2 separate regions of the Homo sapiens genome follow, and region 1 is reported to be linked to region 2. The links are microRNA targets in miRTarBase. Many come from high-throughput screens and were not tested one by one. Region 2 holds a microRNA gene; the other region holds the end of a gene's coding sequence.

Region 1 (5,000 bases), not on the chromosome of region 2:
AACCCCGGCAGGCATTCTACAAAACAGTTATTAGCAAATTGTATCAAAAAGTATCAAAACATTTCAAAAAACTCTAAAAACTGCCAGGCTTGGCAGATGCGCAGGACAGGGTCTCCAAGTGCCCGTGGCGCTGCCCTATACTCCAGGCATTTATCCTAGAGGCCAGGATGCCACCCCCTCCCCTCCCCTCCTGGGCACTCAGAATCCACGGAGACACCAGGAGGTCTAAACCTCATCTGCAGCTGCCCCTCCAGGTTTGGGACCAGTGGACGGGGTTCCAACCACGGGCTCTGACAGCCACAAGGCCCATGAGATGCTGCTGCACCATGGAGGACCAGGGTGAAGGATGAAGGTCAGTGACTCTACAGGGGGTGGTGGGGGGTGTGGCAGGGGTCCCCTCACTTCCCACATTGCTGCAAGTCACTGAACGATCACTTGGCTTAGGGGCCGAGGTACACTGAACCACAGGTGAACACAACTGAGCTCACAAAGTAGGCCCCTGGACCTCAGAGGATGGACCCCACTTCCCCTCAGCATCTGGATGCCCACCTCAAAGGTGAACACCCCTTAGGGTGAGTTTCTGGGTCTCCATGAAGTCACCTTATCATGAGTGAGGGCACTCAATATAAATACACACGTGTGGTCCTGCTCAGAGCCAGGTCTGAAGTCCCACTTGATAGCCTCAATAAAATGGCAGAACAATAAAAATACCAATTGCGTGCTAACCACAGTTGATAAAATAATCTCTGTGCATTTAAAACAGCAGGAAGTTTGCTATAAGTAACAAGGGTTCATCAGCTTTCTACTCCCTCCCTTCTATTATTATAATACATCTATGTCTTAAGCAAACAGCTTTCCAACTTGGGTGAGGACCAAACCCCAAACTTACAACTAATATGAAGTTACAACTCTAATTCTTTAGAAATGAGAGAAGTCCAAACCTCAATAGAAGCCTGCCATGCTTATTTTGAAATGTTAAAAAAAAAAAAAGATCCAGGTGTCTTCAAAATTCAAGCAGAATAGCTTGAAACACTGAAAGTTTAACATGATGACATGTGTGGCTGTTTCCCTCTCAAAATGGCAGCCTGCAAGCACCTGTGCCTTCATCACTCTAGTTTAAAACCCCACATTCGTGACTGTGCGGTTCAAATGGCCACTGCATAAGCACAGCCCAAACTCTGCCCATCTGAGTTAAAAAACATTTTATTCTTTTGAGACAGGGTCTCACTCCGTCACCCAGGTTAGAGTGCAGTGGTGTGGTCATAGCTCACTGCAGCCTCAACCTCCCAGGCTCAGGTGATTCTCCCACCTCAGCCTCCTAAGCAGCTGGGACTACTGCATGCCCCACCATCCCTGGCTAATCTTTTGTAATTTTTTTGTAGAGATGGGGTTTTGCCATGTTGCCCAGGCATGGTCTCTTCCATTTTCAGTTCCATTTTCATGCACAGTAGGGTGAATTTTCAACTTAAAAAGACAAGTAACAAAAACCTGGCCCGGGCACCACCACTGGGTGCCCTTGTGCCCATCCACTGACCCCAACAAGCTCAAAAACCTTTCTTGTCACAGTGTAGCCACCATCAAATATTAGAAGTTGACCCACAAGATGAAACTTGTTTATCCTCCCTTTAAAAGGGTGGTCCCAACCTTAGTAATATTAGGGTCAAAGCCATGTCAATTACAAACCACCTTCATAGTATCAGGAGAGACACCACAAAATATGAAGCGCAGGACGTCGTATGTAACTCATGAGGCACAAGAAAATCAGAATAGAGGCCAGAAGCTCACACATTTCCAGGGACAAGTCCCAGAAGCAAAACATAAAAGAGCTGGCTTAGGCTGAAAACCAATGGCTCTCCTCTCTCCAAGGTCAAAGCTATCCCACTCCCCAAATCACTCACAGAGTCTTTCTATGTGCTCTCCCCAACTTGCCCCGAGATTCAGGCCAAACAACTGCCCGTTTGTTCATGACCCAGGCTGAGATGGGGAGAACAGCCCACGTACACCCTACCCTGCCTTCTGAGGGGTCTACAAGCAATAAAACCTTTCCCGAATAGGAAGGGGGTAAGCTATCCCAAAGTTGGCAGAAGTTCTGCAAAACATGTTTTGTGGGGGTCTGGGACTAGGTATGAGACAAACGACTTTTAGGCTCAAAGAAGTTTGGAAATGCTGGGTTGAGACTTCTCGGAACCTTTCATACACCGGAATGCTGCAGAGCTCCAAGCAGAGTTTCCAGCCTTTTGGTCTGTTTGTTTGTATGCCTCGCAGAACCTCTCAACAGTTTGTAAGCCTCCAGGGACTTCACATGCAAATAACTAGCTAGCTGAACATGCAGACTGCCCTCCTCACTAACCACAGAGGGCAGTAAGTTGGCTATTGAAGCTTTCAGTCCCCAAAATGCTCTCATCTCTTCTGGATGGCTACATAAACAGACCAGTGAGAACCACAGTAAACCCTGAAGGGAAGGGAAAGGAGGGGCAGCAAAGAAGCAGAAGAAATGGAAATTAAAGTTAACTAAGATTTTTTTCCTAGTCTAATATCAATCTTAACACATTGATCCTCATCCACTCGAGCAGCTGAGAGCCCTCTTAAAGGGCAAGTGACATCGAGACCTGCTCTCGGAACTGTCTGCAGGAAGACTGGTGTTAGACTAGGATTGAAGATGAAGCACATCTTGAAGTTTACTGATCTCTGCCATCGGATGCTGGGTGAGGTACAGCTCATTCATGCCTTCCTTGGCTCATGCTTAAAACCCATCACACTCCTATCCTCCCATAGTTCTGCACGTTTCTCATCCACTCGGGCAGCTAAGAGCCCTCTTAAAGGGCAAGCGACCCTGACACCTGCTTTAGGAACTGTTTGCAGGAGTCAGTGCAGGCCAGCTCCACATCCTGAAGGGGATGCCATCCGGGTACGAACAGCTCAGAGGCTGAATGGCCCTATCACCCGGGAGGAGCCTGGAGGGTATTCCATCTAATCCTGTGGCTAAGCGGGGTGGATGAGGGAACACACGGACTTGTTCGAGAATTTGCCCAGCAGCACGAAACTACTTAGAAGCAGAAAACTGGGGCAGGACCTGGCGTGGGAGTTAGGGAGCCCTCCACTGCCTTCTCAGGGATCCACATGTGCTCCTCTGTGCAGGAACTTTCAACAGCGCCTCAAGATAGAGTCACAGAGAACGATGGCAAATTCCATAGCACTCACTTTTTCTTTCCTGAGAAATAAACAGATTTGGGAGCTCAGTACATCAGTAATATAAAAGACAGTGGGTTCAGAAAAAAAAAAAAGGAAAAAAATGCACAAATTACAAAAAAATATGTATAAAGAGCTTCATACCTTTTTTCGTTTTTGGTTACCTGTAACGTTTTAGAATTCAAGAAGGTTTCCAATGAGGAAAGACGGAATTATTCAGAAACAGCGTTCACCTGATACGGAGAACAGCTCCCCAGCGGGAAGTCATCATGTCTCATCTGACAGTCTAGCGAGCTGCGTGGCCCCTGGTCACTCACTCACTCACCCTCATGGGTGGTCTCTGTGCACTCATTTATAAAACAAACACACTGGACCTTGCCAGTGATTCCCAGATGTGACTAATACCCAGAATTCCAAGAACTAGTTAAAATACAGCTTCTGGGCACCACCTCCTCCCCGTTCCTGGTGGTTTTGGATTCCATAATTCTGAGCGGGGCTCACGCATCTGTATTCTTAAAAGTTCAGCCAGGTTTGGGGAGGCTTGGACTAGGTGGCCTAAGAGAACCCTTTGAGGCCCAAGCTTCACTACAGAAATTTCTGTGTTACCCACGTGCCAGCTACTCTCAGGGGGACAGTCAGCAAGGACCCATGAGGAATCATAACACGGGGCAAAGACCTGTGAAGATACAAGGGGTTGCTCACTGCCTGGGCCCAGGGTTAGTTATTCAAGCAAGATATGTAAAGTTACAGATAGTATTTAATTGGTTACTGTGATATCATAGAAATACCAAGAATCATAAAAGTAAAAAAAGCTGCTAAGTTGTACATAATGTTTCCGGAATACTAAGAAGTTGCTGCTGGTCTACAGAGCCCTGGGAGGTGACGGTGAGGATGGTCCCAAGAGGCGCAGCTAGGGTCACTGGCCCCGGTCCTGGTGCCTCTTGCCTTTGCCTTTCTTCTTCTTGTCCTCTGGCCGTGGCTCCAGGGCGCAGACACAGGCGGACCCGCCAGCGATGGCCTTGGGCAGGTCGACGCCCCTGCTCCACTTGTCGGCCTCGCGGTCGTACACCTGCACGGTCTTGGAGAAGGCAGTGTTCTCCCAGCTGTAGCCGCCCAGGATGTAGATGCGGCCCTCCCACACTGCCACGCCCGACTCGCTGTTGGCGTGCAGCAGCGGCGCCACGCGGGTCCACTGGTTGCACTGCGGGCTGTAGGCCTCCACGCCCAGCACGTCGAAGCGCTCCATGGACTCGATGTTGTCATCGCTGCCCCCGATGGAGTAGATGCTGTCACCCAGGCTGCACATGCTGTGCCAGCCGCGCGCCGTGGTCATGGGCCGCCGCTCCTCCCACACGTCTGTCCGGTGGTCGTAGCATAGCAGGTTCTTGCGGTAGGGGCCAATTTGGTAGTCGTGGCCCCCCGAGATGTACACGAAGTCTTTGTAGATGGTGCCCGCGTGGCCGTACGTGAACCTGCAGGGTCGACGGGCAGAGACAGAGGGAGAGCTCAGGGCTGTGCCAGGCTTACCCCCTCCGAGCCGGGGAACAGCCTGCCGTCTTAGAGGGCCATGAGGATTTAAGAATATAGGGAGTGGGCACCCCATGAACACTCTATAGACAGTAGCCGTCATTAGCAAAGAAATGGCAGGGCAGGGCGGGGAAGTGGACAGCTTTGCAGTCAGGCCGCCTGGGCCAGAACCCAGCTTCACTCTCTCTGAGTCTCCCTTGCCCCATCTGGGAAATGGGAATAATCACAGGACCATCACCCTTTTCACAATGGCTGGAAACGACTAGAACAATGAGCTAGCAGGC
Region 2 (5,176 bases):
CTATTTTCGAGTGGTGGTTTGGTTATCCGTGAGGCCTGGGGCGGACACTGCTGTGATCAGTGGGAGGTCCTGGGTAGGAGGCTTGTTCAGGGAGCCATCAGCGAGGCTGGTGTTGACCGTCAGACCCTTTGGGGCAAACCTATGTTTAGCTATCCCATCTCTTCAGCATATCGTTTCCAAATGGAAATGGCTGTTATCTTTTCAGATTAGAAGACTATCCAGCCTTTTCTAAAACTGTGGGCCACACGGGTGGGGCCCAGCCTGGGCCAGTCTCACACCTGTTCCCTCCTGTCCCCAGGCGGAGTCTGAAATGGCCCTGGATGCTGAGTTCCTGGACGTGTACAAGAACTGCAACGGGGTGGTCATGATGTTCGACATTACCAAGCAGTGGTAAGAGGGAGCTGGCGGGGGCAGCTGCCTGTGACTCTCACCCCCCTAGCCCCTTGGGCGCCCTCTTTGTGCAGCAGATAATGGTTAGAGCAGCATCGTTCTGCAGGACCGAGGGACTCTTGCTGGGCAGCTGTGGCAGCTCAGCCACAAGGGGCACTGGCCTGGATGTCGGGCTGGGCAACGACTATGCCTGTGCCTATGGGGCGGGATGGCGTGGGCCGGCTGCAAAAGGCATCTGGGGCAAGGCACGCACCTTCCATAGCCCCACTGTTCTTCCTGAAAACCCATCTGAGACTTGGCGGAAGCAAGTGGCTGCTTGTGCTGGGGGCTCCCCGCGACCTCCGTCTTCATGACCTAGGAGGACCCACAGCCAAGATTCATTCTAGCAAGAAGATGACAGCGAAATCAGCTAAGGGCAGTGGCACACAGGACGATCTCTGGGGGACCAGGCGCAAGCCCCCAGAGTCCACTGTGGAGTCGCATGGGATCCACTCAGCTCCTCAGGAGTGCAGTGTCCCCCAGGACGCACCGGAGCCCCAGCGGGGGGGTGCTGCGGACGCACACTTGGCACAAGGCTCCTAGAAGAACGAGGGCCGCGTGAAGACCAGTGTCCTGGTGCAGGGCCCCTCCTAGCCACAGCCAGTGCCCGGAGCACCAGGAGCAGCATGCCCGACACGTCCAGGCATCTGCTCTTCCCAGCAGTGGGTCTGGCCTGGGGGCCTAGTCAGCAGCTTCTCTTACTTGGGAAGACCCCCACACCAGGGTTAAGCGTACCGCCTGTCACGGGGCCGCACACTCAGCACGCATCAGCAGCCCAGGCCTGAGGGCGGCTTGAAGCACCTGACCAGCCATGCTCTGGGCCTCTGCCAACCTTTGCCAATGCTGGGAACCATGCCTGCCCTCCCAGCCTTCAGCACCACCACCAAGGACTGACCGCAGGCACCCTCAGGAGAGCCCTCGGTGGGGGTGTGGCACACGGATGGCAGGAGAACCACACACGGGGCTGGCGGCCCCACCCCAGGGCACGAGTTCAGCTCGGGCGCACACGCTGGCCTCACCTGGGCGAGCAGTGGTGCTCCTCTCCCTCCGGCCTCTCCTGTCTAGGCAGCAGGCCAGCCTGGTGGGTGGGAAGTGGCTTTTCCCAAGCGAAGTTGAGTGTGGACACAGTGTGGCCTCCACGGCACCTCCCACTGCTGCCACAGGAACGGCCTGGAGGGAGCTGCAGCCGCCTGGGCTGCCGTGCGAGGAGTGGGCGGGAGTGACAGCGAGACTTGAGCCAGCCTGAGAAGACGCGGCAAAGGCGCTTACCTGTGGGCCCGGAGACCCTGTTGGCAGCACCAGCCTGGGCAGGCGATGCCTATGGTAGCAATGCTCTGTCTGGAGCCCCTGGTGCCCAGCAGGAAGGATGGAAAACACTGGCTCAGACAGCGGCTTCAAGCACCACGCAGGCCCTTCACAGCCACGAGAGGCAGGAGACACCAGAAGGCCACCTGCTTAGGAGGCCAGAGGTGCCCCTGGGCCGGCCTTGGTGAGGGGCCCGTTTAAATGACTGCGTGTAAATGAAAGAAAATGAAGTTAGAAACAGGATGTTGCATTTTTTACTCCCTTATGTTGGCTTTCAGTCGTGGGGAAGTTTTGTCACTTGAAGCGCTGGTTATTTCTTCACAAGCCATTTGGAAAACCACGCAGCTGGGAAACTGGCAGTTCCACGCCAGGCAGACTCTGGAGACTTGCCGTCCGTGCCAGGAGATGTCTGCTTAAGACAAGGCTCTCCAAACAGCCCGCTTCACCGGCAGCCGCAGAGGCACCCCAGGGTGTCCTCGGCTGCCCCGGTGGGCAGGGAGCCTGGAGGACCAGCCACAGGGTCGACACCAAGGGGCACAGAGGACAGTGCGGAATGAGGGTGGACACAGATGAAGCCAGAGGTGGTTTTGTAGGGATGCGGACATGGGGTGCTCTGAGGGAAGGCAGGGACAGGCAGGGGCGTTCCAGTGTGGGGTGCGGTCAAGTACCTGCCGTCAGGGAGAGGGACGGGCGGGGGCTGCAGGCTGAGGGGTGCGAAGGCCCTCGAGGCACTTCCCTCTAGCTCTGCATGCACGAGGCATGCTTCTGCTGGGTTGGATGTTGGAAATGAGAAGCAGCCACCATCCTCGGGCCTGGGCGCACAGCACCTTTCCAGGGAGGGACAGGGCGTCGCAGGGCTGAAACTAAGCCAGGTCCTCACCTGTTCTCCGAGGACCTTCAATTACATTCTCCGGGAGCTTCCAAAAGTGCCCACCCACGTGCCAGTGTGCGTGCTGGGAAACTACCGGGACATGGGCGAGCACCGAGTCATCCTGCCGGACGACGTGCGTGACTTCATCGACAACCTGGACAGGTGGGTGCGGTGGCCCTGCTCCCGAGGGACCCTGCCCGGTGCTCCGGTGTGCGGGGGAGGGTGCTGAGGCAGAGGCCCAGGGAGGGGTTAACGTTAGCATGGGGCCCGGCGGATGTGGGTCTCGCCGCTGAGTGGGGCTCACTGAAGCCTGGGTCTCCCCGATGGCAGGGCCGGGAACTGTGTGCTGGGGAACTGTGTGCCAGGGTGAAGTGCTGGCACTGTGGGGTCACCTGCAGAAGGGCACTCGGCTTAGCTGCTTAGCAGGGCTCAGCAGGGTCCTGTGGCCTCAGGAGCCTGCAGGAGGAGGGAGGGCAGTGCGGACCCACAGCTGTGGGCCCAGGGGTGATCCTTGGCACCAGGGCAAGGGTCTTTCTCTTGCATCTTTTTTCCTTTCTGAAAGCAGACCTCCAGGTTCCTCCTACTTCCGCTATGCTGAGTCTTCCATGAAGAACAGCTTCGGCCTAAAGTACCTTCATAAGTTCTTCAATATCCCATTTTTGCAGCTTCAGGTAAGCACTCACCACGTGGGGTGGAGTGGCTGCTGGTCTCTCACCTCCTTCCAGGTGTCTCCTGTGTAGCAACGGGTCTCCCTCCTAACCCCTGAGAAAGCTGTGGACCTGCTCGGAGATTGGCTGCTGGCAAGGGCCCAGCGTTCTACTGCACCTGCCTGCTCTGGGTGGCAGAGGGTACAGGGTCCTGAGGGCTAGACCCAGTCCCAGGAGCCCCTCCACCTCTGCGGGGACCCCTTGCTCAGTTTCCCCCAGTGTTTTTGGTTGTTTTTGTTTGTTGAGATAAGGTCTTGCTGTGTGGCCCAGGCTGGAGTGCAGTGGCGCAATCATGGCTCACTGCGGCCTCAAACTCCGGGGCTCAGGCAATCCTCCCACCTGTCTCCCAAAGTGCTGGGATGCCAGGCGTGAGTCACCGAGGTACTCGCTGTTCACATCTCACATTTCCCTGGTGCTTGTGTCAAAACCAAGGAACCAACTTTGGCCTACGGACTAAACTCACTTTCCTTTGTAGAAACAAGGGCCAGGCCAGCTGTGGCTGCAAAGTAGCCCAGCAAATGATGAGGCTTGAACCTCCTCGCCCTGGGCTGCCCTGATTGGGTCTGGGGGACCTGAACCTCCTCGCCCTGGGCTGCCCTGACTGGGTCTGGGGGACCTGAACCTCCTCGCCCTGGGCTGCCCCAGCTGGGTCTGGGGACCTGAACCTCCTCGCCCTGGGCTGCCCCGCCTGGGTCTGGGGACCTGAACCTCCTCGCCCTGGGCTGCCCCGCCTGGGTCTGGGGACCTGAACCTCCTCGCCCTGGGCTGCCCCACCTGGGTCTGGGGACCTGAACCTCCTCGCCCTGGGCTGCCCCAGCTGGGTCTGGGGGACCTGAACCTCCTCGCCCTGGGCTGCCCCAGCTGGGTCTGGGGGACCTGAACCTCCTCGCCCTGGGCTGCCCCAGCTGGATCTGGGGGACCTGAACCTCCTCGCCCTGGGCTGCCCCGCCTGGGTCTGGGGGACCTGAACCTCCTTGCCTGGGCTGCCCCGCCTGGGTCTGGGGGACCTGAACCTCCTCGCCCTGGGCTGCCCCAGCTGGGTCTGGGGGACCTGTACCTCCTCGCCCTGGGCTGCCCCGCCTGGGTCTGGGGGACCTGAACCTCCTCGCCCTGGGCTGCCCCGACTGGGTCTGGGGGACCTGAATCTCCTCACCCTGGGCTGCCCCAGCTGGGTCTGGGGACCTGAACCTCCTCGCCCTGGGCTGCCCCAGCTGGGTCTGGGGGACCTGAACCTCCTCGCCCTGGGCTGCCCCGACTGGGTCTGGGGGACCTGGGGCCCAGCTGCAGCTGCAGCAGCCTTGGTCTTTCTCCAGAAGGATGTCAGGCTTGCCCAGGAAAGGGGCTGTGCTGTCGTCCTGGTGTCAGAAGAAGTGAGGATGCCTGCAGGCTGGGACTGCTGCTGGGGACGTTTGGGTTGGAAGGAAGGCGGCAGTCAGACTTGTCCTGTGCCGGCACTGCTGGGGAGGCCCCTCCTTCCTGCAGAGCCGTCCCCTCATCACTGGGTTGATTACTCCTTAGAGAGCTCCCCACTGCTCAGCTGCTCCATTCCCTAATGGTTTGCCCTCCAAACCCTTCCAAAGCCTCCCAGGGAGAGAACGGGACCCTGGACAGAGTCTTGAGCTGGAAGCGTAGGGCTGAGCTGTGTGTGACTATCCTTTTGCTATGGATGTGTTCAAGCAGATCTGATGTCCTCGCCTGTCTCAGCAGCGGGACCCCTGTTTCCTCTTTGTCTTGCCCCTGGATTGCCTGGAAGCAAATTTCAGGCCTTCTTTATGTCACCTAAAAATATTTCAAACACATCTCTAAAAAAATCAGTTGTTTTTTTAACCTGACCGTAGTACCTAATGTAATACCGCATGTTAAA

The links. The annotated mature microRNA hsa-miR-4292 reads CCCCUGGGCCGGCCUUGG and lies in region 2 at 1,902-1,919, shown strand. An mRNA with a match to its seed (bases 2 to 7 or 8) in the 3' UTR can be bound and repressed. Matches are read on the target gene's strand: a 7mer-m8 pairs with bases 2 to 8, a 7mer-A1 pairs with bases 2 to 7 and ends in A, and an 8mer does both.
Region 1: the mRNA of KLHL36 is a reported target of hsa-miR-4292. Seed matches in the 3' UTR shown: 7mer-m8 at 4,060-4,066 and 7mer-A1 at 1,351-1,357.

Annotation. Positions count from the first base shown.
Region 1 is chr16:84,661,239-84,666,238 of GRCh38, reverse strand. It overlaps KLHL36 (kelch like family member 36), which reads right to left. Exons shown (of 5, transcript NM_024731.4): 5 at 1-4,661. The coding sequence ends at 4,106. Among named protein-coding and RNA genes, the nearest start is that of KLHL36, 15 kb to the right of the region's middle. RefSeq lists a silencer at 2,275-2,324 and an enhancer at 2,415-2,634.
Region 2 is chr9:136,829,095-136,834,270 of GRCh38, forward strand. MIR4292 (microRNA 4292) reads left to right here and starts at 1,863; the gene lies at 1,863-1,929. It overlaps RABL6 (RAB, member RAS oncogene family like 6), which reads left to right. Exons shown (of 15, transcript NM_024718.5): 5 at 299-390; 6 at 2,627-2,767; 7 at 3,171-3,276.